Linked DNA regions of Homo sapiens: region 1 is linked to region 2. Evidence: fine-mapped expression QTL. A gene starts in region 2. The other region holds a variant in brackets. All regions are shown on one strand. Distances are from middle to middle. Region 1 overlaps CNTN1 (contactin 1). Region 2 holds the start of PDZRN4 (PDZ domain containing ring finger 4).

Evidence for each region. PIP is the estimated chance that this variant, and not a neighbour inherited with it, causes the effect.
Region 1: its variant is fine-mapped to the expression of PDZRN4 in tibial artery (GTEx, PIP 0.96).

Annotation. Positions count from the first base shown.
Region 1 is chr12:41,041,081-41,056,434 of GRCh38, reverse strand. All of the region lies in intron 23 of CNTN1 (contactin 1), which reads right to left. Among named protein-coding and RNA genes, the nearest start is that of PDZRN4, 140 kb to the left of the region's middle. The variant T/G (reference allele first, on the strand shown) is at 6,603.
Region 2 is chr12:41,179,175-41,194,528 of GRCh38, reverse strand. PDZRN4 (PDZ domain containing ring finger 4) reads right to left here and starts at 6,209. Exons shown (of 10, transcript NM_001164595.2): 1 at 5,426-6,209; 2 at 2,985-3,071; 3 at 341-448. The coding sequence starts at 6,073. LOC124903069 (a long non-coding RNA gene) reads left to right here and starts at 6,297. Exons shown (of 2, transcript XR_007063563.1): 1 at 6,297-6,728; 2 at 7,199-11,499.

The DNA.
Region 1 (15,354 bases), 140 kb after region 2:
ACTAATCCCATCCTAACATAGTATACAGATTAAGAGCACATGCTTTAGTGTTAGAACTAAATCATTTGAATTCTGGCTCCTAGCTTAACCAGCTGTAGGACTTTGGACAAGTTACATAAACTCTCTGAATTTCAGTGACTTCATCAGTAAAATGGTGATAGTAACAATTAGCTAATTGTGTTATTTTAACAAAGATACAGAGTGCATTGCTATTATAAATAAATATTTCATGATTGGTGGCTCTTTGTATTATTATAGCTGGAAAATTATTTTCTAACCTACTTTGTTTGTTGAAAAATGAGTGCCAATTGTCTGTGGTCTCTGCAGGCCACATTCCAAAGATTTCTGGTAATGGACTCAGGAAAGAAGTATCTGGCCAGGCCCAGACTAAAGGGCATTAGAAGGTATTTAGGATTTAGGGTACCACTTAATCCAAGCCGGGAGGAATCAGGGCTCTTCTGACTACAACTTAACTACTCTGCATCTCCAAGGTTGTGCAAACTCAAAAGAAGATCTAGGTACTGAGGTACCCGTGCTTCTTCAAAGTAAGAGCAAATCCGTGGCTGTAATGTCCCTGTGTGGGAAGCTGAGAGGGAAGAGAGAGGAAGTCACTGCTGAGAAAGGTACATTGACATGATCCAACTTATAGATAAAGATGCTAGTTGTTTTAACTAAGTGGGCAGGAACCATCTAAATGTGATTAAAATGTGAGTTTCTATCCAAGTCATTTTTCTTTCTTTAGGATTGCTTCTCAGTTTTAATATAACAGGAAAAAACTTAACTGCCAAACCTCCATTCATGAATTTCAATTTAATAAGAACCCACTACTTCTGTGGTCAGTACTGGGTGCAGAAATGGCCTTTCTTCTTCTCAAGAGATCTTGGTTGAATGATAGTAAACCACAACTGTAGTACGGTGTGGTAAACACAATTGCACTTAGAATGCCAAAGATATGAGGGGAGCAAAAAGGAGGGTACTTCCAGGTGGCAGCAGAAAAGGGGTTTCCTGGAGGAGGAGGAAAACACACTAAGGAAGAAGAGATGGGGCAAAATATATGAATGGGTTTTAGAAACACCCACTGTCGTGATGATAACAAAATATTTACCAAGAAATGCATTGTGAAAAAGGGAGAAGCTAGTGAAAGTTATCCTGGATATTCACAAAAAGTAAACTCTTATTCTAAGCCACTGCTTATAATACTCTAAATTAATGTAAAGTTATAGTTGATCCTCTCATGTATATTAATTTCCATTTCATTAATTCATAGACCAATCCAAGATAATAAAAAAAATAATTCCCTTAAAACTTCAACATATTTTATCATCGTCTAGGACATTAATTTTATAGAAGGCAAATACATATTCTATTAGACTATATTTCAAACACAGTTGTGCAAATGTCAGAGAAGTTATTAACCTAGAAGAAAACCAAAACAAAAATATTTGCTACTTGGAATGATGCCTAATCTTCAGTTTTAAAACTTGCAATGTTGGATTTCGTCTAATTAAAAATGGCTGACGATAAACCACAAATGACATACTGTTCATTGACCATGCAGCAGAGCTGTGTAGAAAATATATTAAATGATTGAAACAATATTTTAAAATTAACACATATAAATGAAAATTCATCAAATTTGCAAAAATATATTGCATGACTTGACATTCTCTAAATCACATAAGTACATTCAAGTACATCTAATAACTAGAGAATGAGTTCTTTAAATGTGACATGGCAACTGATAGTGTAATTTAAAGACATTATTCTATGTGAAGTACCTTATTTGTGTGCTAGCTTACAGAATGTATTAGTAACTGCTGAAGATCAATAAAATAATTGAGCAACTGCTATGTTCTGTGATAAGTGCTTTGGTTTATATTATCAATAGGTTAATTATAAAGATAGGAAACTTGTTTATGTTTAAAATGAGGAGAGAATTACCATTTCTCTCTTTGCTAAAGCAGATACTCTAATCATATTTTCACCATGATTTTTCATCTTGTGTATAACTAACCTTGCCTCATACATGTTATGTTCCATGAAAAATAGGTAAGATATTAGGCATTGACAACAATATCTACTTAATTTGTAGAAAAATGTTTATAGTCAAATATGTTCTAGGAAATATGTATAATACTATGTTTACTAGTGCCTGTAATATAGTTGCCTTATTTTTTCCCAATATCGATGCTATAACTCCTAGCAAAATTTATTACTAATTTTATCATTCTCAAATTTTAGAAAAATAAATCTTATACCAGAAAGGATAGTATAGAGACTTTAAGGCACTATATAGTCCTAAATAATCAAGTAGCAATAAGAAAGCATACTCATTTTCACTTTAATTTGAGAATAATATAACTTCTCTTTCTTTGAGGAAAGGGAATTAGCCTCTAAAATTCAGATATAAAATGTTTCCTTTTATATTTATTTTATCTGGCTTATAGAATATTGATTAGTGTTTTACAAGTTTCCATGAACACAATTAAGAGCTGGCATACAATATATATTTTTAAAGAATGAAAGAACAAGAAGACAATAGAGTTTTGGGGACTTTTGCCTTAGTGGTACACTGTATTTATTTTAAAAATGGGTAAAAAAGGATTAAAAAGTCAGAGTAAGAAAATGCTAAGTTAAATAATTCTTTATTCCTTTAACTGAATCCAAAGTTCAACAAGTATAATAATAAATATGAGCTAGCATTATATTATTTGTAATGACATTTAAATATATGTTAGTTATTTTAAAATCTGTTAAAGATTAGTTAAAAGTTCTTGATGACGACAGTTTTCAGTCCCAGGAGCAAAAGCAAAAAGAATAACATGTGGCTGCAGAGAGCTACAAAAGATATGTTCAAACATCTAAATCATCAATATAAAGGGCAACATAATTAACAAAATTACAAAATAACAAGAGTTTCCAGGAATAAGCCACCTTATAAAGAACTGACACTGCATTATTGGCAAATATATATATATATATATATATATATATATATATATATATTTAGTGAAAACATGAAAGAGACAAAATCTAAATAAATTTTGTCTGTGAACTACTTTTTCCTCTACATCAAATTCATTTTGGGTATCATATATCCATGGCAGTGTATTTATATGTTTAGAAGTTTAGTCAGCCATTCATAGTGACTCTATAAAAAGAAAGAATGTCTTTTTATTTATAAAAACCAAGGCTTTCTAAAAATAAACTCAGACTATATAATGTCACGAAAGCACTTGGGATACTTGAAAGAATGTAAGAATTATGAAGACTATATTTTTCAAATGTGATGGCATCATTATTTTTTCTACTTCAAATATTTCTCTATCAAATTGGTTTGCTTTATATTTTAGACTTCTGCTTGGATTATAATATCTATGTAGTCTTAGGATCACACATGCCAGTTCTCTATTTTCTAAGCACATTTATTTTACTAAATATGTAAGTGCTTTTTAATTCATTTTTCTTCTTGTGTCCATTTTATTTTAAGAATTTTCTCTTTAGATTTTATTGGCTCTCACATTTTAGATGCATTCTTTATAACTTTAAATAATATTTCAAGAATTCTTTTTGGCTTAAATTTAATTATAAAGCATATACTGGAAATCCGATTCATGTTTTGTAGTTCTTGAGGATAAATAAATGTTCTTAAGACATTTACTATTGAAGTCTTCCAGATATTGTAATCCAACAGTATTTATCTAGAGAACTTTTTTTGCTAGTTAAATTGAAAAAACAAACACTGAGTCAAAATGGTTTGCCAGGTTCTTTGGGGGATAAAATATAAATATTTACTTATAAGTTATAGGCTACTTCATTCTAAAAAGACTTTCTGATAGTTTACAAAGATAGATAAAGTATGATAAAGAAAACAAATAAGAAAATTGAGAGGAAAAAAGATAAAGTTAGGAAACATGATACAAAATAAGAGGTAATACCAAAATAGCAGCAACATCAACTAAAGCTAGTACAAATATTGCTAATATTTATTGTGTCTGTGTTGTTCCAGGCACTTTTTAAAGCCACTGCATATATATTCAGACATTTTAAAGTAAAATATACAATACTTTATATATTTTGCTATAGGCATGTAGCAGATTTGGCTCTGAGCTTTGGCCATGCAGTGCAAACACGGAAATACATCAGCCATTGAGTTTCCAATGTCTTTATCCAAAAGATAAAAACAAGTAATGTCTCAGGAAGAGCTTATCTACTTCTGGTCTTAAGACCAGAGACAAAGTTTATGGAACAGTCTAGTTGGGCAGATATCCGGGATATAAACTGTACTGGATGCCAACACAGTACTAGAAATACAAGAAATTGGGAAAGCATATTTATCACAGTATTCTACCCCCACAGTTCTCTACTGAAGGAAGATGCTGATAAGCTATTTAGAGTGTGTGTGTGTGGAGAGTGAGTCTGCTATTTAATACATTCCAATAAGTAATATCTACACTGCTCACAGAGAATGGATTATTTAACTGTAGGTTTCTTTGTGTGTGTGTGTGTGTGTGTGTGTGTGTGTGTGTGTGTGTGTGTGTTTGTGTGGGGTGGATGTTAGGAGATGAACTGTTCCAGAGTTTAGACAGAAGTGATCCTCCTTGCATTCTTCCTCTTACAAGATCTCATCTTCTCCATTAAATACATAGTATGCAGGAATTTCAAGACTAATTTAATGTTAATATTAAATTATTTTATTTAGACATTAAATATTTATTTATTGGCCTAGACCAGGGTGCTCACTTCTATAGGTTCACCCCTACCTGAGAGAACTTTCATTCACAGTTCCTTAAAAAGAGGACATTTTTGTATGTGTTTTATAGAAATATATCCTCAACAATTGTAGAATAATATAATAGTAGATTTTGTGTATTTTTTTTGGTTTTGTTTCTCTACTTTATTTTTAATTGCCCTCAGTCTAAGCCAATAGCATAAGACTAAAGTACAATTCAATACAAAATTAATTATATAAGATCACAAAACAGGCTGGGTGCGGTGGCTCACACCTGTAATCCCAGCACTTTGGGAGGCCGAGGTGGGTGGATCACGAGGTCAGGAGATCGAAACCATCCTGGCTAACACGGTGAAATGCTGTCTCTACTAAAAAATAAAAAAAAAAATTATCTGGGCATGGTGGCGGGCACCTGTAGTCCCAGCTACTTGGGAGGCTGAGGCAGGAGAATGGCGTGAACCTGGGAGGCAGAGCTTGCAGTGAGCCGAGATCTCACCACTGCACTCCAGCCTGGGTGACAGAGCAAGACTCCGTCTCAAAAAAAAAAAAAAAAAAAAGATCACAAAGCAATATGTTCTAAAAACACAGCTCACTGAAGGTTTGGACTGATTGATTCATAGAATTTACTGTGTCTCCAGGGAGTGGAATGAGTGAGAATCTCCACCGAGCATGCATTCTCAATAGGGCCAACATGGCCTCCAACTAAGTGAAAGTTGGTTCTTGTGGGGTGGGAAAATCTGAAATCTCATAATAGTTTTGGATCTCTAAAGGGCCACATAACATAAACAGCTATACAGTAGATTTTTGGTATTAAAATTTCATAAGTGGTAACACTTGGAAAAATAATATGTAACGAGGCTTCCTAGGGAGGCAATAATGAAGAAAGTTTGAGAAATGCTGATATAGAGTGTTGTCTTTCCCACTCATACTTCCGGTTATAATTGGGTGGCAAAGGTTTAAGATATATAAAAACAGGTTTAATTTATTCATTTATGGCTCATATCAAAGGTAGACACCATTATTCTCATTTATGCAAAAAGAGAACATACCTATGTTAAATAATCAAGGCATATGATAATGGTTTGGCTGTGTCCCCACCCAAGTCTCAGATTGAACTGTAATCCCCAGTGTTGGGGGAGGGACCTGGTGGAAGGTGATTGGATCATGGGGATGAATGTCTCCCTTGCTGTTCTTGTGATAGTGAGTGAGTTCTCATGAGACCTGGTTGTTTAAAAGTGTGTAGCACTTCCCCCTTCTCTCTTTCTTGCCACTGTGTGCAAATGTGCTTGCTTCCCCTTTACCCTTCTGCCATGATTATAAGTTTCCTGAGGCCTTCCCAGCCATGCTTCCTGCACAGCCTGTGAAACTGTGAGTCAATTAAACCTCTTTTCTTTATAAATTACCCAGTTTCAGGTAGTTCTTTATAGCAGTATGAGAATGGACTAATGCAACATATAAATAATAAAAACATACATAAATTTATAATAATATTATAGACATCTTGACTGGGTGCAGTGGCTCTCACCTGTAATCCCAGCACTTTGGGAGGCCGAGGCAGGCGGATCACCTGAGGTCAGGAGTTCAAGACCAGCCTGGCCAACATGGCAAAACCCTGTCTCTACTAAAAGTACAAAAATTAGCTGGGCCTAGTGGCATGCACCTGTAATCCCAGCTACTTGGGAGGCTGAGACAGGATAACTGCCTGAACCTGGGAGGTGGAGGTTGCAGTAAGCCGAGATTGTGCTACTCTGCACTCCAGACTGGGTGATAGAGCAAGACTCCATCTCAAAACAAAAAAATTACAGACATCTTAATTAGTTAAATCAAATTTTGCAGGACATTGGGAAATAAAATAAACAGGCTTATGTTT[T/G]CCAGAAACTGGTTTATATGTCATGAGCTGGGGAGTTAATGGTAGTGACCCAGATTGGCAGAGATCAGGCAAAATACAAATATGAATATGATCTAGTCCCCTTCTCAGATAGGAAGCCATTAAAGGTTTTTGTGCAGAGACATGAGAAGAGCTGACATATTTTAAAATAATCACTGTGGTCATTATATTAAGAATGAATTGTAGGTGTTAAGCACCAAGCGAAGAGCACAATTAGATGGTTAGTGCAACAATCCTGGAGACAAGGCACAGTGACTGGACCCTATGATGGTAGCAGCAGAGGTGGATGTTTCTCAATACATTTATTTTAGTGGTAAAACCAACAGGATTTCTTGATGAAATGAATGTGGTGTGTTAAAGAAAATGATGCCAAAAATTACTTCAAAGAAGATTGGAGATACTTTATTGAGATGGGTAAAACTGCAGAAAAAGCAAACAAAGGGAGATGGGGAAGAGTTTAAATTAGATGTCTGAATGGAGATAGCAATCAGGCAGCTGAATAAATCAGAGAAGACTGACATTTGATTGTTTTCTACAAATACATGTCATGCACTTAAAGCCTCGAGACTGCATGAGATTACCTAAGGGCTAAGAGGAAAAGAATTACTGACGTACTGAGTCCTGGGAGACTTTAAAGTTCAAAGGTTGGAATGATTACCAGAAACCAGAAAAGGAGACTGAGAATGGCAGCTCTTAAGGGGAAAAGAAAAATCAAAACAGACTGGTGCCCAGAAAGCCAAGAAAGAGAAAGTGGCCATATGCATCAGTGCTGCTGAGAGCTTGAGTAAGGAGAGGACTACTCCTAAATTAGAAACATGGAGGTCATTAGCAACCTCGACAAGAGCTGTTTTGACAGGGTGTTGTGGTGAAAATCTGATTGGAACAAATTTAAGATAGAATTTTGGAAGAGGAATTAGGTGGTGAAGATGATAAATTATTTGTTGAATTTTACTCCAAAGAAGATAATAGAACATGCGTTAGTTACTGGAAGAGATTTTCTTTTTTTGTTTTTCTTCGTTCCTTCCTTCCTTCCTTCTCTTTCTCTCCTTCTTCTCTTTCTCTCCTTCCTTCCCTCTTTCCTTCCTTCATTTTTTTCCTTCTTCTTTCTTTCAATTGTTGCTCTGTTTTGTTTTGTCTTATTTGTATTTTCCCCCCTTAAAAGTGGGCAATATTGCAGAATACTTGTATGGTGATGAGAAAAATCAAATAGAAAAAAAGAAATATAATGATGTAGAAGAGGAAGGAAAGGGTAGTTGAAGCAATATTCTTGAATTAACGAGAGGTGTTAGAATCTGGCTTCCATGTGGAGGGGTGTCCTTAGGAACATAGAACATTCAGCCAGGATCTTAGAAAGAAAGGCAGGTCACATGGGCGTATGTGTAGGTGTCGACTGCTTCAGATTGCTTTTATTTCTCAGAGAAATAGGAAGCAAGGTCATTGACTAAAGAGAGAAGATGGTAAAGATGTGTTAGAAATTAAAGGAAAGAAAAAAAGAAGGTGTGAAATAGGTTTCTAGGTGAAAGAAAGAGTGGATGTGCTAGGAAAATCTAGTGGAATGGCCCAGCAGCACTATGGGCCCACTTGAAGTTTTGTGGTCATGAATTCAAGGTGAAACCAGTGTTCGTGTTGGCATTCTTCTCTGGCCACCTTTAGCCATGAAAGTGTAGGCTTGGAGCAAGTAGTGAGTTAAATTTAATCCACTCCTTTAGCCAAGTGAGTATGGTGAAGTTAGAGTAGCAAAAGGGAACTTCTGGGTGGAATGGGTGGTCTATGCAAGGGAATAATTATATTATATGGCTGTGGGATTTAAGCTGGATATGGAAAGAGTGAGGATACAAGGAAGGTAAGGGACACAGACAGTGGTCAGATCAATGGCTTGTCCTTCCTGATAGGTCAAAAACTTTTGGGAGTCTGAGTACCAGAGGTAAGAGTAAAGATAGGAAGTGGGCAGAGGATAGGATGTTTGAGATTATGTAGATAGTAATGAAAAGGGCTAGGGTAGAACCGTGGGAAGAACATCAATAAGAGAAAGAAATGGAGAGGACAGAGTAATGCAAAAATCATTTATGCCTACATTGTATCACTAGAACTTATGAAAGAAGTATAAAAGAGAATGGCATTCTCTCCAATGTCATTTGGAAAGAATGAAAATTATCTGAAAAGTAAAGTCTCCATGGAATGAGTAAGAGTGGCCCTAGAGGCTAGTAGAAAACTTGGACAAGAAGGGGAAATGGGTGGGAGAGGGTGATGGTATGATTCCAAGCAGAGCTTTTTAGGCAAGAGAGAAAGAGAATACTGTAGAAGTGACAAAAAGGAAGGTCAACTACCCTCCACCAGGTGCAGCCTTCAAGGGGTATGAGAGAGAACCACCACTTTTGAATAGACTGCAGAAGGAGCAATGTCATCAGGGAGAGCAAGACTTCAGATAAAGTTAAAAGGTGAAGGAAGCACTCAGTGAGTAGATGGAAGTTACAGAAGACTCTACTGATAACTGATGGTGAGTTTTAGAGGGAACAGTGGGAAGGTTTTAAGAGTAAAGTATGAATAGAGATGTCAGAAAATGGGCACCTGGATCCGTGTTAATCAGAGACTCCTGGGTTTCTGTAGGTGACTGTCATAAACAAGGCTGAAGGGCATGAACAGATTATATCTCAGAGTCTCTAGGTATGTGGTGCTGGTGAGAGGGTGAATGTTGGGGATGGGAATGCAAGGGGGATGGGAATGCAAAGGGGAGATCTTGGTAGGGGCATATGGCTTCTGCCTTCTGCCTGGATGTGGACACATAAAATGTGAACAGTTATATTTAATATGAGTTTGGGTTTGGCCAAGTGAGAAGCATAAAGAGGGAAAGGGACAAGGTATATAGGGCAGTTGTTTTCAATATGAACCGTGGAATCTGAGCTGACATTCAAGGCAGGAGCTGAGGACATGAGGATGAATGAAGGACAAAAAAAAAAAAAAAAAAAAGAAATAAGCAATAAGATCACTGGTAGTCTGGGTAGGGGAAAGTAGAAGAACTGCTGGAGTTGGGAGGAGATTTAAGGAAATAAACTAGAAAAAGAAGAATCAGTGGTCAGAGAACACAGTATTTAAAATCAAAATTAAAGAAAAAAATTTGCAGTTATTAGTAATATTAAGATTTACAGGGGTTCTTAAACTTTTTGGTGTCATGGACCCGTTTAGTGGTCTGTGGATTTCTGAAAATACTGAGAATAATGCTCTTATTACATGCATAAAATATAATACATAGAGTTTTTTAAAAACCTATTGTATTGAAATTCATTTATAAAAGTATCAAGAAACCAAATGTAAGTTACTAACACATTCAAATAGTATGCTTATTAACACATTAAATAACAGGATCTAGGAGCAGATTTAAGAAATGTATTATTGAAGTAATACTTCAACAGCTGAAATATATGAGAATATGTTTGATTGTTATTGGTGACAGAGTAATATGTGACCTAAATTCATATATTTTAAAATGCCAAATTTCAGTTAGAAATTCATGAAAATTATAATGTAATTTTTTACCATCCAAGTTTCAGAAATCCCTCAAATTCAAATTCACACTGAAATCTGTGAATTCCTGTTTCGGTTGTGATCATGAGTGGGTGGCTGAGGCAGGACACAGGACAAGATCATCAGAAAAGAAAAGTTAGATAAATTAAGAAGCTATGGCATTGGATGAATCATCTACATGGATGTTGATATCCTAAAGATTCACAACTTTCAGGCACATCAGAATTCTAAGGCATCTCTATGGGCTAAGGGACTTGAGGAGTTAGTCTCTGTACTCTGCCACACCCTCGACTCTTCCTGCATTTTCTGTAACCTTCAATAACCTTCACTCTTCTTACTTCTCCTGGCCATGTGACCCAAGACTGATTATTTGCTTTTGAGCCCATTTTTAAGAAAAAGAAGTGAGAGTCAAGTATGCAGGCCCTAAAATGGAAGGTTATAGAAGAAGGACTACTGGCTGGATAATCTCATACTCTTGAAATTGTTCTAAATTATTTATTTTGTTTTGGTCTGGATGATTTTGCAGAATGTGTCTATAAAAACTGCCTCTGGAATGTCCTTTGCACTGCTCTCATACTGTGAAGAATCTACCAAGAGGCCTGGCTTCTAGCCTTACCCAACTATGGGAATTACTTTGAGACCTAAATGCTCCTTCATAAATCACTAAAGCTGGTCCCTAATGTAGTATCGAATGGACCATTTTAATATGTTGACATATCACTTTCCAGTTTAAGCATTTTATATTCCCTCTTACTATGGCATTAAAGGCTTCCAGTAATATTTATGAGAAATTTCAAGGGTTTTATTTTTAAAAATCACAAAGTCACTTTCCTTTCTAAATGGTTTTCAAATTTATGTTATAGTGAATAAGTGTCAAACCTCAGGAGAGAAAATTTAAAACCCAACTCCCTTTCTCAGAACAGACAATTGTTTTTATATTTTCCTAAGAGGGTTACAAATTTCAACACAGCCTATAATGTTTCAAAGGAAAGTGAATTTTGAAGTCTTGTTCTGATGGTTGATGCATATATCTATTAAAGATAATCTGATTGTTTTAATTAACTTTTGTGTTGCTCTTATTTCAGAAGAGAAGGTAAAGTAATATCCTATGATTTGGGGCGGGGGTAGGTGTATCTTAGTTCATCCTTAGGAACAGGATGTTTTCAATCCACTTGAGTGTAAAGAATAGATATCTTAATGTAACTTTTTATGTCATTAGTAAATCAACATTCATAGAAAAATACAAAATTAGGCTTACCAATAATTAAAATTCTTCATATAAATCATTGTAAAAGATTATCCATTTTCTCATGAATAATTTATTCATGCATATATCATAAATTGGTTGAAACTTTACAACGAAGTTTCTCAAACCTTGGTGTTATACTTACAGGTAAGAGAAACACATTACTTTTTAGTAAAATTAAAATTTTGCTAATACCCAATACTCAGAAAAATGAAATCATCTTTGAATAAAGGTATCTCCCTTAGGACTATTGGTTCATTCTCCGAAAATTCTTCACTATAATTACATTCTCCAAAAATGATTAATTTCTTTAATTTCTGACGTCCTTTTCCAAAGCACTCACTATATATGGGAGTTCCTCCTCATGCTAGATTCCAATTTTAGTTCCTTCAGCAATATTCTTTCCAGATTCTACCCTCCCAGTATAACATTCTAAATTTAGAACACATCACCAAATGCAGTTATTTGAGGTGAAGGATTTGCCTCATAGATTTCAAAATTGTGGAATAACTAATCTAAAATATAAAACAAAACAAAAACATTTACAATTTTTATGTCATTAATGATGTAAACCAATCCTTAAATATTCCTCTCTACTTGACTACTTAAATGTTATTTAACAGTGATAGAGCCAAATAATATATTTTTAAAGGATAAACCTGTGTTTACTGACTTTGTTTGCACCAGAATTCTTACAACTCAACTTATTGACATAATCCTTGGCAATTTACCCAGCATCATAAATTGTTTTAATCTCAGTATCCATCTTGTCAGCAATTTCTGTTTCTTGAATCCAAAACAATCCTGCATTTTGAAGCTAACATCCTAGCCTTTCTGTAAATTTCCATTACTCTTTCTCTGAATTTTTTATTTTATTTTTTTATTTATTTTATTATTATTATACTTTAAGTTTTAGGGTACATGTGCACAATGTGCAGGTTAGTTACATATATATACATGTGCCATGCTGTTGTGCTGCACCCATTAACTCGTCATTTAGCATTAGGTATATCTCCTAATGCTATCCCACCCCCCTCCCCCCACCCCACAACAGTCCCCAGAGTGTGATGTTCCCCTTCCTGTGTCCATGTGTTCTCATTGTTCAATTCCCACCTATGAGTGAGAACATGCGGTGTTTGGTTTTTTGTCCTTGCGATAGTTTACTGAGAATGATGATTTCCAATTTCATCCATGTCCCTACAAAGGACATGAACTCATCATTTTTTATGGCTGCATAGTATTCCATGGTGTATATGTGCCACATTTTCTTAATCCAGTCTATCATTGTTGGACATTTGGGTTGGTTCCAAGTCTTTGCTATTGGGAATAGTGCCTCTATAAACATACGTGTGCATGTGTCTTTATAGCAGCATGATTTAAAGTCCTTTGGGTATATACCCAGTAATGGGATGGCTGGGTCAAATGGTATTTCTAGTTCTAGACCCCTGAGGAATTGCCACACGGACTTCCACAATGGTTGAACTAGTTTACAGTCCCACCAACAGTGTAAAAGTGTTCCTATTTCTCCATATCCTCTCCAGCACCTGTTGTTTCCTGACTTTTTAATGATCACCATTCTAACTGGTGTAAGATGGTATCTCATTGTGGTTTTCATTTGCATTTCTCTGATGGCCAGTGATGATGAGCATTTTTTCATGTTTTTTGGCTGCATAAATGTCTTCTTTTGAGAAGTGTCTGTTCATGTCCTTTGCCCACTTTTTGATGGGGTTGTTTGTTTTTTTCTTGTAAATTTGTTTGAGTTCATTGTAGATTCTGGATATTAGCCCTTTGTCAGATGAGTAGGTGGCAAAAATTTTCTCCCATTTTGTAGGTTGCCTGTTCACTCTGATGGTAGTTTCTTTTGCTGTGCAGGAGCTCTTTAGTTTAATTAGATCCCATTTGTCAATTTTGGCTTTTGTTGCCATTGCTTTTGGTGTTTTAGACATGAAGTCCTTGCCCATGCCTATGTCTTGAATGGTAATGCCTAGGTTTTCTTCTAGGGTTTTTATGGTTTTAGGTCTAACATGTAAGTCTTTAATCCATCTTGAATTAATTTTTGTATAAGGTGTAAAGAAGGGATCCAGTTTCAGCTTTCTACATATGGCTAGCCAGTTTTCCCAGCACCATTTATTAAATAGGGAATCCTTTCCCCATTGCTTGTTTTTCCCAGGTTTGTCAAAGATCAGATAGTTGTAGATATGCGGCATTATTTCTGAGGGCTCTGTTCTGTTCCATTGATCTATATCTCTGTTTTGGTACCAGTACCATGCTGTTTTGGTTACTGTAGACTTGTAGTATAGTTTGAAGTCAGGTAGTGTGATGCCTCCAGCTTAGTTCTTTTGGCTTAGGATTGACTTGGCAATGCAGGCTCTTTTTTGGTTCCATATGAACTTTAAAGTAGTTTTTTCCAATTCTGTGAAGAAAGTCATTGGTAGCTTGAGGGGGATGGCACCCAGATTCATAAAGCAAGTCCTGAGTGACCTACAAAGAGACTTAGACTCCCACACAATAATAATGGGAGACTTTAACACCCCACTGTCAACATTAGACAGATCAACGAGACAGAAAGTCAACAAGGATACCCAGGAATTGACCTCAGCTCTGCACCAAGCGGACCTAATAGACATCTACAGAACTCTCCACCCCAAATCAACAGAATATACATTTTTTTTCAGCACCACACCACACCTATTCCAAAATTGACCACACAGTTGGAAGTAAAGCACTCCTCAGCAAATGTAAAAGAACAGAAATTATAACAAACTGTCTCTCAGACCACAGTGCAATCAAACTAGAACTCAGGATTAAGAAACCCACTCAAAACTGCTCAACTACATGGAAACTGAACAACCTGCTCCTGAATGACTACTGGGTACATAACGAAATGAAGGCAGAAATAAAGATGTTCTTTGAAACCAACGAGAACAAAGACACAACATACCAGAATCTCTGGGACACATTCAAAGCAGTGTGTAGGGGGAAATTTATAATACTAAATGCCCATAAGAGAAAGCAGGAAAGATCCAAAACTGACACCCTAACATCACAATTAAAAGAACTAGAAAAGCAAGAGCAAACATATTCAAAAGCTAGCAGAAGGCAAGAAATAACTAAAATCAGAGCAGAACTGAAGGAAATAGAGACAGAAAAAACCCTTCAAAAAATTAAAGCCCCCAGGAGCTAGTTTTTTGAAAGGATCAACAAAATTGATAGACCGCTAGCAAGACAAATAAAGAAGAAAAGAGAGAAGAATCAAACAGACGCAATAAAAAATGATAAAGAGGATATCACCACTGATCCCACAGAAATACAAACTACCATTGGAGAATACCACAAACACCTCTACGCAAATAAACTAGAAAATCTAGAAGAAATGGATAAATTCCTTGACACATACACCCTCCCAAGACTAAACCAGGACGAAGTTGACTCTCTGAATAGACCAATAACAGGCTCTGAAATTGTGGCAATAATCAATAGTTTACCAACCAAAAAGAGTCCAGGACCAGATGGATTCACAGCCAAATTCTACCAGAGGTACAAGGAGAAACTGATACCATTCCTTCTGAAACTATTCCAATCAATAGAAAAAGAGGGAATCCTCCCTAACTCATTTTATGAGGCCGGCATCATCCTGATACCAAAGCCGGGCAGAGACACAACCAAAAAAGAAAATTTTAGACCAATATCCTTGATGAACATTGATGCAAAAATCCTCAATAAAATACTGGCAAGTCAAATCCAGCAGCACATCAAAAAGCTTATCCACCATGATCAAGTGGGCTTCATCCCTGGGATGCAAGGCTGGTTCAATATATGCAAATCAGTAAATGTAATCCAGCATATAAACAGAACCAAAGACAAAAACCACATGATTATCTCAATAGATGCAAAAAAGGCCTTTGACAAAATTCAACAACCCTTCATGCTAAAAACTCTCAATAAATTAGGTATTGATGGGACGTA
Region 2 (15,354 bases):
GCTGGGACCATAGGTATGTGCCACCATGCCCAGCTAATTTTTTTGTTTTGTTTTTTGGTAGAGATGAAGTCTCACAATGTTGCCCAGTCAGGTCTCGAACTCCTAAGCTCACGTGATGCTCCTGCCTCAGCCACCAAAAGTGCTGGGATTATAGGCATGAGCCACCTCTCCCAGTGACTTTTACATTTTTTGTAAGAAAGTAAAAATGATAATGCCTTTACTGCTACTAAGAATGTATATTCTAATAAGCACCACACCAAGGTAAAGTGGTAAATTTGAAAACTTAAAATATCCCAATCTTTCTTGCATGGATCATATACATGTTTTATCATTGTCTTACCTCCATGATTTTGTCATGAATCTCCAGGCCATCTGCTCTGTCAGCAGGTCCATTTTCTAAAATTTTTGAAACGTAAATTCCTTCAGTCGATGTTCCTTCCTGATTATTCTATTTTTAAAAAATCATTAGCAGAAGAAAGATGTAAGCAAAATTTAAATATTATTAGGGACAATTTACCAAATGTAACATTACCAATCCTCTGTAAACCTGCAACTCTCTTAGCTGGGGATTTGGAACAGAATTTTAACTTACTTAACACCAACTAGTCATTAATCAAGGTGGCAGTTTTAATGAATGAGTCCAGGGTCTCTGACAAGATTATCTATTTACTTCACATTTTTGAGTTCACATAAAAAAGCTATGGGAAAGGGCATGTACAAGGTGAAATAAACTGGCTTTTAAGTATTATTTATAAAACATCTCACTTCTAAAGAGAGACAGCAAGTAAAAGGGTGATAAGGTTAAAGAAGGAAAAAAACATATATCTGGTTCCCACTGTATAACTGGTTTGAGATGTGGTAGAGTTTAGAAATGTAATTTAGCTTTTTGATGTGCCAGATTTAGAAACATAGCTCTAGTTGTGTCTATTCACAAGAGACACTGGTAGCTTACTCAAGTGTAAAATCCCAAAAGATCACATCTAAACTGCAAGGGAACCTATGCAAAAGGGAACCCATGCAAACTCATCGTTACATATTTCCAGGTGCAGTCTGACTCATGATTAGTTAAACCTCAAACATAGCCAATATGGTAAAAATAGGACATTTTAGCCAGTCACAAGAAGTCAAAGCTTATTTAGGGGAAAATATCCAACATCCTATAATAATACATTATATAATTTTAAATGTCATTTGACTTCATGACAGGTTAAATAAAATTATTTCTCTTTAGCTGTCCTTATCATGAATTTTAAGAGACTTTTTAAAAAGGCCCGATGTCATCTAAATGTCAAATACCAAAATAGAATCTATAAAAATATTCCTTAGGGAAAATGATAACGAAAATGCTATGATGAAAAGGCTTTCATCTTAATAAATGAGGACTGTTTTAAAAAGAGAAGCACAGCAGTCATTAGTTGCTAAGTTTTCAAAATACTAAAAACAAGGAAGAAATATGTCACTGCCATCCTTACCTAAACAGAGCATATGGCCAACAACACTAAGACAGTTTCCTTGTACAACATCTGCAATGCAGGATGCAAAAATTTCATGGCAGTTTATTGAGAAAAATTAAAGAACATCATTTTTTAAAACTTAACCACCTTTTTCCAGTTACGGTGAAAATTAAGTTGACACAGGAATTCAAAGATATAAAAGAACTTTGCAACTACAGTATATTCTATAAGTTTAAAATATGCATTTTGAAAACAATTGACATCAACATGAAGAATATTATTCATGCAATCAAACAAAGAACTCGGTTTGGGGAGCCAAAAATATTTCTAATCAACTGTTTTTCTTTAACATGGTACTTCCTATTGAAATCAATCATCCCTTGTTTCAACTGTTCATTCATTCATTCAATATAATTTTCTTCCTAGTCTGTATTAGCATCTTCAAACTGAGTAATTGCACTTAATAAATAGGTTTAAGCAGGCAATACAATTGCCTAATATTATCAAATAGAAATTGCCTACACATGGTATTGTGAAATAGGTTTATTCAAGAAATTTGCCAAAAGGACAATAAAATTTAGATAAAATGTGAAATGTACTTTCCTTTTCTTCTTTTAAAGTAGCAAAGAGAACCAAGTTTGCTAGCTGTTGTTTTTTGTTTTTCTCAAAAATAAAGGCCAGGTGCAGTGGCTCAAGCCTGTAATCCCAGCACTTTGGGAGGTGAGGGAGGTGGATCACTTGAGATTAGGAGTTCGAGACCAGCTTTGCCAACATTTTGTATTTTCTCTGCTACAAATACAAAAATTAGCTGGGCGTGGTGGCACACGCCTATAATCCCAGCTACTTGGGTGGTTGAGGCAGGAGAATCAATTGAACCAGAGGCAGTGGTTGCATTGAGCTGAGATCACGCTACTGCACTCCAGCCTGGGCTGCAGAGTGATACTCCAACTCAAAAAGAAAATAATTTTTAAAAATTAAAAAATAATAAAATCAGAGCCAGGCATGGTGGCTCACACCTGTAATCCTAGCACTTTGGGAGACCGTGAGGTGGATCACTTGGGGTGAGGAGTTCAAAACGAGCCTGGCCAACATGTGAAACCCTGTCTCTACTAAAAATACAAAAAATTAGCCGGGTGTGGTGGCAGGAGCCTGTAATCCCAGCTATTTGGGAGGCTGAGGCAGGAGAATTGCTTGAACCCAGGAGGAAGAGGTTGCAGTGAGCTGAGATCGTGCCACTGCACTCTAGCCTGGGCAACAGAGCAAGACTCTGTCTCAAACAAACAAACAAAATAAATAAATAAATAAATAAATAAATAAATAAATAAATAAAATCTGGGTATGTACTGGAATATTTGCATTAAGAAATCTGATATTTGATCACAAGTATAATTTTAAAGATTAAACCACTTGTTTTTCTTACTCAAAATCCACAAACAAAAGCTAAGTCCTCTATTATTTTATAAGCAATGAGTAATGCTTATTAATGCTTATTTTATAAGTAACGAGTAATGCATTAACAAGGTGTTTTACCTGATTTGGTCGACCTCCTATAATATTGAATCCCAAAGTGTCATTTTCTCTTTCTAACACAATAGTGAATGGCTTATGCTCTCCATCCTAGAAAAAAATGTATAAAATGACTTAACCAGGTAAAAATATAAAAGAAAAATAAATCCTACAATAAGTTTTTATGTACTGTAAGTTAACTGACATGTGAAAAGAGGAAAACTTTAAAATTAAGGATGGTTGAATGTGGCAGAAGGTTGACATTTTCCTATACTTACTTTGCAAGTATGTATTTGAAAAAGAACAACTGTGCATGTGAGGGGAAAAAGCCCTATTTTCAAAAATTACTAAATGGCTTTGCATTTTGAGACAGGAAGCTCTTTTATCCTAATGCAGTATCTAAATCTGATTTCACTGCAATTGAAAACAGATTTCTGGTTAAACCTTGGAGGTATCTTTATTTTTCCCTCCATTACAGAAAAGTAAAATATAAATTATCAATAGTGTAAAATTTTTATTTTGTAAAGTCTTAAGGAATTTAAGAAACACTGGAACTATTTATAAATTATAGTCATAACATTCATGTTGCTGTTGTAATGCAGGATCTGTTAGGCTACTGTAGTCCTAATTTTAAATAATATTCCTATTTGGTTTTGCATAATTCCTGCAGAATAAAAAAATAAGGGTTTGTGCTAGGTAAAGTAGTATGTATTTTTTCCTGCTGGCCAAATAATAGTAAAACAAATATGAATTATAGCTACAATGTTTATTAGTAAAGACTAACTTACACATAGGATGAATTAGTGCTGGACTAGGTGGGTTTATTCATGGTTGTAGATGTTATTAACCTTTACTTGGAAACTATTTCTGAATGATAACATTCAGAACATATGCATCATCATCACTGCTATCAGCATCAAGATATTTTCCCAGGAGCTTTTCCCAGGCAATGCGCAGAGCAGCCCCTACTGGTAGTAGAAAAACACTTCTGAGGAACACATAGAAGGTTTTGGCTAGTCTGCAAATCATGGGCAGTTTTTCTCACTTCTCAGAATCATAGCTTGACTTGTTGCATGGACTTTTCTGTAATATTATTCTAGCTGTTCCTCCTTTCCTTCAACCATTGGTTTCCTACGACCTTGAAACCTGGACTGGTAATACAAAGCTTCTATCTGTGCTTTTCCCCGGGTCCTCCCGTTTTGTAAATTTACCTGTATATATGCGTATATGTATATGCATATATGAACTAGAGAAATACTCCTTGAAACCGGTCGTTTAATACACAACGTGCTTCCATTCATCAAGGTAGAAACATTTTAGTCCCTCTCACTTCAATTTTCTCTTTTACGTTCAAGACGGGCGCTTCTAAACTCAGTGCCTGAGTTAGAGGCAGTGTGGAGCAGCCAGTCCCAAATGGGAATCTTTCTGGGTTGCTCCTCCCCGGGAGTGCTGAAGAATGAAAACAGCTCCTTGAATGGTGCGCAAATTCTGCTAAATCCCTGCTCACCATGGCAGCGACCAACAATGTCAGACACTGTGCAGAAGTCCTCCAGGAGAGAAGTAACAGCTTTATAAACAAGCCTCTTCACACGGGATGCTGCAAAGAGGCTTGTTTATTCGGTATGAAAGCCGGCGGGAGGACCAGGAGCGCAGTTCGGGGCCAGCAGCTTAGACAAAGAAGGGAAACAACCGCTGCCTGGGGGCTCGCAGGGCCGGTCTGACCACAGATGGAGGTTCTCGGACTGGACTTCCCAGGTCGCACACACACAATCTCAATCTCTCTCTCTCTCTCCACCAATAATGAGATCCCGAGGCAAGGAAGGCTTATTTAGGGAAAGTCAGAGTGATGAAATGAACTCTGCAAGTCTAAGAAACCCCATCTCTCAACTCCTGAGGCTGTCCTGGCCCCAACGTGCCTCACAGTCCCCAACTTAATAGAAGGCAGTTGATTCAGGCAGTGGCAGCGCAAGTGTCATCAACGCTGACACCAGTCCCAGGTGTGCGTGCGCGGCTGCCAGGGCCGCGGGGATGCTGGTGGCCGCGGGAGAGGAAAGGCTGGGCCGGGAAAGTCTTCGCTTTCTGTCTTTCCTTCTCGGATTTGCTTCAGGCACGGGACAAGTGCTCAAAAAATAGGCAGAGACGGTGGGCAGGAGGGTGAAAGATGGAAAACGAGAGTCTGGATGGAAAATGAGTTTTCACAATTCCTACTTTCCCGGGGGAAAGTTAGAATCGAATCTGTTTAACTCTTTCCAATCGTAATATAATCAGAAAAGGGACAATCCTTAACTTCGACGCCAATCCATTCGTAAGATAATGACAGGAAAGTATGATCAGGGTGTGGATGTTTCCTGCTGCATAGTGAGGAAGGATGCCCAATTCCAAAGGAATCCTGAAGCGTCAGAAAGAACCGCTCCTTTTCCCACCCCAATCGACCATGCCCGCGGTGCCCACCCCCCTTTGCTTACCCTGCGGTGGCCGCCACCGAGGTCGCCGACGAAGTTGCGGACGTGAGCCATGTATTGGGTGAACTTCTCCTGGTACCTGCGCGCCGTGAGCTGCACCTCGCCCTGCAGCGCCCAGAGCTGCGCCAGCAGCGCCTTCTCGCGCCGCCTCCAGGCGAGGACCCGAGGCCCGGGTCCCCGCCCGCGGCCCCAGCGGCCGCCCGGCGGCCCCCCGCGCGCGCCCCCGCCCCGGCCAGCCCTGGGTGTCGGACCGCAGCCCCCCCGCGCGGGCACCTCACCACCGCCCAGCCCCGAAGCGCAGCCCCCGCGGCTGCGGAGCCGGCGGGCAGGGCCGAAGTCGCAGTGCTCGACGTGCGCCTCCAGCTCGTGCAGCCTGACCGAGTGGCCGCAGCCGCGGGCGCGGTAGTCGCACTGGACTCGCAGCTTCTGGATGAGGCTGCGCAGCGGCAGCACCCGGTACAGCTCGCCGGGCGCCAAGGGCTGGCACTGCAGCGGGCACCGGCGCCTCCGCACCGCCCAGGGCAACAGGCAGCTGGCGCAGAAGACGTGCCCGCACGGCGTGCACAGGGGCTCTTCAAGCACCTGGCCGCACAGTTTGCACTCCAGAGCCGGGTCCACGGCTTCTGCGAAGCGCTCCAGGGCAAAGCCCATGTTAGGGATGGGGAAGAAAGGGGGAGCGAAAGCAGAGTCCGTCTTCTCCGAGCCCCCCTGCCTTCCCCGGGCCACCCCCGGGGCAGCCGTCTCGCGGCGGCGGCAGTGGAGGGAGGTGGCGGGTGGGAGGTGTGATCTCACTGTTTGTTTGGCTTGAAGTTTTCAGGCTCCTGCTAGGTCCCCTGATTTCGCCCGTATTGACGCTAATAGAAGTAACCTCCAGAGACCCCCGCCTCCTTCGTTGCCCTGCGATTTATGTTCTTTCAAATTTTGGCCGCCCAGCTTACAATGGTCCTTGGGAACACTGTGTTCTCCTTCGCCTGAACAGTGAACTTCAAGCATCGAGGCGCCTCGCCCTGGGCAGGGCTGCTGATGGGTAAAGCGCTAATGTTGAGAAACAACTTTTAAATTCACCACAATGTAAGCTTCGGGAGAGCAGAATCTTTTTGTCTGTCTGGTTTTCCGCTGAATGCCCATGGCCCGCCCGGCGTCGAGTCTATCTCCAATATGTTTGAAATCGAAGCACTTTTGTTCTTTCACATCAAAACTACAAAATCAGAAGTTAGGAAACTGTGACCTTAGGAAATCACTATAAGGAAAATAACACTAGGAAATCCACAGGGCCAGGCTTCTCAAACCGTGATCCAGAAATCAGGTGAGTTAGAATGGCGCGATCCTTGACCTAGCAGCAAAGATGGGGAAAAAGTCAAGGGCCCGCCTCAGGACACTGCCTTCTTAGGGAGCCCATGAACAGCCATGCAAGGCCTCCTCCCGAGTGAGGAAGCTGGGATTCTGAGTCTGACTCCAGGTTCAGTTGCCACAGCATCCATCTTCTACTTCCACGGGCGTTTTACTACTGGGGACGGGAATGTGATCATTTGGGAACCTGGAAGGGAAAATTAAAGGGAAGGATGATGAAAGAAAGCAGTGAAATAACATATAAATAAAATCTTAGTGGCTGCTTCCTTCTACTTACCCTGAATGAACCCTTTGGATCCAAATTGCCTCCCCTCCTAGTTTGACTCCTCAAATTGTGTAGCATGACAAGCCGTCCTGAAAACACGCAGTAGGGCGTCATTCCAAACCCTTCTTACTCCACTTCCTTTACCATCTTCTGAACCTTAGGAATGCAGAGATCCTGTCACCTGGCTGCATATCACTTACTGCCATTATCCTGAAGCTGCCACCAGATGCTTGGGTGGGTTTTATAAATTAATCATTGATGATTCCTTGCTGCCAGTTGAGCCTTGTTCCTGGAAAGCTTGTAATTCTCTATGACACCAAATGGCATCAGTTGGAATTGATGAGAACAGCTCCAGACTTTGTCTTTTAAATCCTTGGAGCTAACTGAAGAATTAGCAAAGACTAATAATAGAGGCTAATAACCTTCTGAGCCTTCTTGCTGTTTGAAAGATGAGATTTTGTTAGTTGTTCAATAACCAGTGATGATTGGTGTGCTAGATGTTTGATATGCTTTTAAACTCTTTTTCAAAATAAGATGCTATATTTCTCATTTAATATATATAGATTCATATGTGATAAAGTAACATTTGCCCCTATGTTCCAAATTTCCCCCCTCTTTCGACCTGTCTTTCTACAAATAAATAAGCAAACAATGAATTACTGATTAAATAAGAAATCATTTAATATTAACAGCATGAAAATATTTTTGTGAATTGCATAAACTGGAAATACATGTTCTAGAATTTATTAAAATACTTCTGGGCAGGAGAAATCTATTCCTTTTTTTAGCTATAGAAAAAGTTGTGACTTACAGCTATAAACATTTATAATTATAACCATGCATATACAGTTATAGCTATAGCTTGACATTTATTGGTTTTACAGTAAACACAATGACACTGACAGCATTTTTAAAAAGAGAGAGAAGAGATGGAATCCAAAAATATTATTTTGAGACATGAGACTGTTAGGACCATGAGACTTCAGTTACTTGGAAAAAAAAAAAGTTCATATGATATCCTTGGTATACCCATGCAATTCCTATAGCAAAAGTAAGGAGCATGAGCAAATTATGTTATGACTAATTCCAGGATGCATAACATTTTTATTATTAAAGTAAAGCAGATGTCAAAAACGTTGTCCACAGAGAATAGGAAGTTCCAAAATGAGGGCATGTAAAGTGAAACTGAGTAATGAAATAGGCCAAACAGAACAGGAAAATCTTTTACGTAATAAAATAAAAGCCTAAGCATTTCCAAAAGAGCTAAGTATAAAGAAAAAACATGACAAGAATTGAACTCTAAGAGAATGGACACACCCAAGTGAACCTCATAAACTTTTGCCATCTGGAAACATTGTGGCATAAGTCTGTGACATCAGTTGAGTCAGATAGTCTCGTTTCACTTCCCAGACTGTAAAATATTTTTCTACATATTAGCAAAATTGTAATATCAGTGAAAAGCTTGAGTGAGCTAGGAATATGGAGCCTAATTAAATGGAAGTAATTAGCTTGGGTAAACAAAGAAAGCACTTTAAATGAGTTTAATATATGCACAAATATTTCAGCAAAACAGACCCAGTAATATTTAGATGCTTTTTGGCAAATTAGACAAATTAACACCTTGCATCTTTAGCTTGGGCATACTCTTATGTTTTCACTGATCATAATTGTCTATCATCTAAACATCCCTGGATAGTGAAAATTGCAGGCTGAATACTAACACTTGGGGAAGAGCTGAAAGGAAACCCACTGTCTTCTTGTTGGGCAAGGCCAACTTCTAGCTGTGTTGTGCGTTGTAGCCAAAACCAAGCCTTTTACATTTCTCATAACCTTTTGTTCAGCCTGGAGCTGAGATTGTGCTTTGCCAGCCAAGAAACAAAGGAAAGACTATGAATTCACTTAGCTTATTTCCAAGCCAAGAATCATGGCTTGATTCAAGTTATCTTTAAGCAGCAGTTTGGGAGGCCGAGGCAGGTGGATCACTTGAGGCTGAGACTTCGAAACCAGCCTGGCCAACTTGGTGAAACCCCATCTCTACTAAAAATTTATTAAAAATAATTAGCCAGGCATGGTGGCAGGTGCCTGTAATCCCAGCTACTCAGGAGGCTGAGGCAGGAGAATCGCTTGAACCTGGGAGGCGGAGGTTGCAGTGAGCCGAGATCACATCATTGCACTCCAGCCTGGGCAACAAGAGTGAAACTCCACCTCAAGGAAAAAATAAATAAATAAAATAAAATCTTTAAGCAATCAGTAGTTGGTTGAGTATTTTCAGCTTAGTAACTAGTTTTTGCTTTCATCTGCTATCAGCAGTCATATATTCATGAAAAGAGATTAAAACATTAAGTTGCTAAATTATTTGGGCCAATTCCTAGTGCAGTAATGAAACTGGGATGTGCCTTGGGTGTTTCCAGTGAGAAGAGGCAGGGTTCCATCCCAGCTCTGAGTCATGCCTACTTCCAAGAATGAATCTAGGAGTATTGGTTGTTGAGTCAAATGCTAAAAGTCCCAAAATAAAATACTGTATTCTAAGACTCAAAAATGATGAATGGAGAGGTAAAATGTGAAAGAGAAAGATTTTTTTCACCTCATGCACAGATAATGCTTTGTCAAAACCAACTCATTTGTGACTCTTTTTCATGTTTTATTTATTTAATTAAGGGCCATGAAGTTGGAAAGGTTGGGGGAATTTTTCAAAGAATAGGACCTTAAACATTTATTTTATATGTGTTCATATAGCATAAGTTAGTACTTTATATATAACAATAGTTTTTCAATTCTCTATTATATAAACTTTCTCATAAAGAAAATTTCATCATCTATGTTTTTCTTTTCTCAATTCCCTGGTCATTTATCATAAATTAGTACTATTTCTATAATTATCCCAAGTGCTCTAAATGTAATCTGTAACTATACTAAATTACTCTGGTAGCTGAGGCAAAAGTACTTAGCCACTTTAGGTCAAAATATTTCCTGTGGAATACATTCATTTGTGTTGAAGTTAATGGACTTTGTTCTTATCTTGATAATTTTTCCATCATAATGTGGGATCAGATTTGCACCTAGTAGCATAAATGACTATGTTTGTAATGCATGAGATAATAACGAGGTCACTTTGACAGTACAGAAAAATTCCAAACTTGATAAGAACAATAAAAGATACTTTGAAGTTGAGTTAGTTGAAAGTTTATTAAAAATGAGGCAGATTTTTTTTATTTTACAAAAGTAGGCTGATAATATATTATGTTAGAGAAGTGATACATTTTGGATATGTTTCACTCCAAATTATACATAATCAGTTAAATCCTGAGAACACAGAGCAGTATCAATTCTTATAATTCCTGTCTGTTGACACATAATCCATTAGGAGTTATTTGCTATTATCTTGCTTTCCTGCTGTCTTTGGCAAAATGTAGTTGGAAGGGGTATTATGACAGTACAGAATGCCATTTTTAAGGGGAATAAAGTAATATGAATAAAACAATTATGTACACCAAAATTGAGTAAATAATTTACAATAATTGTGCAGTCTCTGCAGGAATGAATTATCAGACACAGCAGAATGAGGAATTTGAAGAAAATCAAATTAAAGTGAGGTATTAAATTAAAAATTGTGGCAACTTAAAATTAGATTACAGACTGATTCTTCCAAAGTCACCCAGACATTAGGAAGGGTACTATTATTCTTTTTAAGAAGGGACTATTGTGAGAGATGGTTTATAGAGAAAAATAGATTAAATTCTGCATTTAGTTAACTTTAATTTTGTGTTATATCTTGTGGGTCATAGTCACTGACAAAGAGAGATGGTATAAAAAACAACCACAAGCTAATAGATAATAACTCTTACTATGTGACAGCCACAGCACTACATTCCCTACATACACAATCTCATTCAAATCTTCCAATGACGATTTTGAGTGGGTACTTTTATTGTTCCCATAACTTGACCAAGTTCACACAAATCAAAAGTGGCAGATCCTAGGCTTAAACTAAGATCAGCCTCACTAAAGAACTCAGACTCTTAAACGCTATATTGTATTGGCTTGTTTTTCTTACACTTGCCATGGGGTTATTTTAGAATAAAATATGCTATCGAATGAAATATGTGAATGGACTCTGTAATTGCATTCATTTGATTCCATCGTTTAAAAGCTCTCTTTTTGTTTTGCTTCCTCTGATGAGGGAAGTTCCAAGGTCATGTTTATTAGAGGCCTTTGAATAGTTTATGTAAATGAGAATATCGTTTAACTGTTCTATGCAATACCAATAACCAATATGGCTATTTTAGACCATTTTGTTCCACATAACTGGTCTTAAATAGCTGAAAGTTTTCTATGTAATAAACCAATTGCGTATGTTCTTTAAGTTTTGTCTTAATAAATCAATCACTATATATTTCGGTCAAACTCTTACTTTGTGCTTCGTTCAATAAAAATTTTCTATAGTAATATTTTTCTGGATGTTTCTGCAAAATTACAGCAATTTTCACAGAATTTTGAGATGTGAGCTCATTAAGTCAGCTTCTTGCTTAGTGGAAGAAAAGAAATTATTTTGTCAATTGTCATTTTTTACTTTTTATTACAGTGATGTGGAAACCACAATCTAAAACCAATGTAACTAAGGTTTGAAGACAAAACCAGGAAAAATATCACTGATCTCATTTACCATCAGTATTTCTTTGGGCTTCTGAAGCCACTTGTTTGCTCGTTTATCCCAAACTCAAAGGAAATCTAGACATAATTAATATTATATATTAATAATTTATTACATGAAAATATAATTTTTTAAAATAATGGATACTGGAAATTCCACATGGAAACTCTGTTGACTAGAACGATGTCTAAGAAACAAAGAGATGCTTTTGCCATGACTTGTTCTGCCATGCCATAGATTTGACATAAATTATTTAATTTCAGTATAATCTCATCTATAAAATGAAATCATTGACACCTGTATCATCCTACCTCCCGGAAATCTTGAAAGAATAAATAAACTGTGGTCTGAGGGACAGCTTGTTATAATTTCTGTTCTTTTACATTTGCTGAGGAAAGCTTTACTTCCAACTATGAGGTCAACTTTGGAATAGGTGTGGTGTGGTGCTGAAAAGAATGTATATTCTGTTGATTTGGGGTGGAGAGTTCTGTAGATGTCTATTAGGTCCGCTTGGTGCAGAGCTGAGTTCAGTTCCTGGATATCCTTGCTAACCTTCTGTCTCATTGATCAGGATCAAGAAACTCACTCAAAACTGCTCAACTACATGGAAACTGAACAACCTGCTCCTGAATGACTATGGGGTACATAACGAAATGAAGGTAGAAATAAAGATGTTCTTTGAAACCAACGAGAACAAAGACACAACATACCAGAATCTCTGGGACACATTCAAAGCATGTGTAGAGGGAAATTTATAGCACTAAATGCCCACAAGAGAAAGCAGGAAAGATCTAAAATTGACACCCTAACATCACAATTAAAAGAACTAGAGAAGCAAGAGCAAACACATTCAAAAGCTACCAGAAGGCAAGAAATAACTAAAATCAGAGCAGAACTGAAGGAAATAGAGATACAAAAACCCTTCAAAAAATCAATGAATCCAGGAGCTGGTTTTTTGAAAAGATCAACAAAATTCATAGACCACTAGCAAGACTAATAAAGAAGAAAACAATGAAGAATCAAATAGACTCAAAAAAAAAAAATGAAAAAAGGGATATCACCACCAATCCCACAGAAATACAAGCTACCATCAGAGAATACCATAAACACCTCTATGCAAATAAACTAGAAAATCTAGAAGAAATGGATAAATTCCTCGACACATACACCCTCCAAAGACTAACCAGGAAGAAGTTGAATCTCTGAATAGACCAGTAACAGGCTCTGAAATTAAGGCAATAATTAATAGCTTACCAACCAAAAAAAGTCCAGGACCAGATGGATTCACAGCCGAATTCTACCAGAGGTACAAGGAGGAGCTGGTACCATTCCTTCTGAAACTATTCCAATCAATAGAAAAAGAGGGAATCCTCCCTAATTCATTTTATGAGGCCAGCATCATCCTGATACCAAAGCCGGGCAGAGACACAAACAAAAAAGAGAATTTTAGACCAATATCCCTGATGAACATTGATGCAAAAATCCTCAATGAAATACTGGCAAACCGAATCCAGCAGCACATCAAAAAGCTTATCCACCATGATCAAGTGGGCTTCATCCCTGGGATGCAAGGCTGGTTCAATATATGCAAATCAATAAATGTAATCCAGCATATAAACAGAACCAAAGACAAAAACCACATGATTATCTCAATAGATGCAGAAAAGGCCTTTGACAAAATTCAACAACCCTTCATGCTAAAAACTCTCAATAAATTAGGTATTGATGGGACGTATTTCAAAATAATAAGAGCTATCTATGACAAACCCACAGCCAATATCATACTGAATGGGCAAAAACTGGAAGCATTCCTTTGAAAACTGGCACAAGACAGGGATACCCTCTCTCACCACTCCTATTCAACATAGTGTTGGAAGTTCTGGCCAGGGCAATCAGGCAGGAGAAGGAAATAAAGGGTATTTAATTAGGAAAAGAGGATTTCAAATTGTCCCTGTTTGCAGATGACATGACTGTATATCTAGAAAACCCCATTGTCTCAGTCCAAAATCTCCTTAAGCTGATAGGCAACTTCAGCAAAGTCTCAGAATACAAAATCTATGTGCAGAAATCACAAGCATTCTTATACACCAATAACAGACAGAGAGCCAAATCATGAGTGAACTCCCATTCACAATTGCCTCAAAGACAATAAAATACCTAGGAATTCAACTTACAAGGGATGTGAAGGACCTCTTCAAGGAGAACTACAAACCACCGCTCAATGAAATAAAAGAGGATACAAACAAATGGAAGAATATTCCATGCTCATGGGTAGGAAGAATCAATATCGTGAAAAAGGCCATACTGTCCAAGGTAATTTATAGATTCAATGCCATCTCCATCAAACTACCAATGACTTTCTTCACAGAATTGGAAAAAACTACTTTAAAGTTCATATGGAACCAAAAAAGGGCCCGCATTGCCAAGTCAATCCTAAGCCAAAAGAACAAAGCTGGAGGCATCACACTACCTGACTTCAAACTATACTACAAGGCTACAGTAACCAAAACAGCATGGTACTGGTACCAAAACAGAGATATAGACCAATGGAACAGAACAGAGCCCTCAGAAATAATGCCACATATCTACAACTATCTGATCTTTGACAAACCTGAGAAAAACAAGCAATGGGGAAAGGATTCCCGATTTAATAAATGGTGCTGGCAAAACTGGCTAGCCATACGTAGAAAGCTGAAACTGGATCCCTTCCTTACACCTTATACAAAAATTAATTCAAGATGGATTAAAGACTTATATGTTAGACTTAAAACCATAAAAACCCTAGAAGAAACTCTAGGCAATACCATTCAGGACATAGGCATGGGCAAGGACTTCATGTCTAAAACACAAAAAGCAATGGCAACAAAAGCAAAAATTGACAAATGGGATCTAATTAAACTAAAGAGCTTCTGCACAGCAAAAGAAACTACCATCAGAGTGAACAGGCAACCTACAGAATGGGAGAAAATTTTTGCAACCTGCTCATCAGACAAAGGGCTAATATCCAGAATCTACAATGAACTCAAACAAATTTACAAGAAAAAAACAAACAACCCCATCAACAAGTGGGCAAAGAATATGAACAGATACTTCTCAAAAGAAGACACTTATGCAGACAAAAGACACATGAACAAATGCTCATCATCACTGGCCATCAGAGAAATGCAAATCAAAACCACAACGACATACCATCTCACACCAGTTAGAATGGTGATCATTAAAAAGTCAAGAAACAACAGGTGCTGGAGAGGATGTGGAGAAATAGGAACACTTTTACACTGTTGGTGGGACTGTAAACTAGTTCAACCATTGTGGAAGTCAGTGTGGCAATTCCTCAGGGATCTAGAACTAGAAATACCATTTGACCCAGCCATCCCATTACTGGGTATATACCCAAAGGAGTATAAATCATGCTGCTATAAAGACACATGCACACGTATGTTTATTGCAGCACTATTCACAATAGCAAAGACTTGGAACCAACCCAAATGTCCAACAATGATAGACTGGATTAAGAAAATGTGGCACATATCCACCATGGAATACTATGTAGCCATAAAAAAGGATGAGTTCATGTCCTTTGTAGGGACATGGATGAAGCTGGAATCCATCATTCTCAGCAAACTATCCCAAGGACAAAAAACCAAACACCGCATATTCTCACTC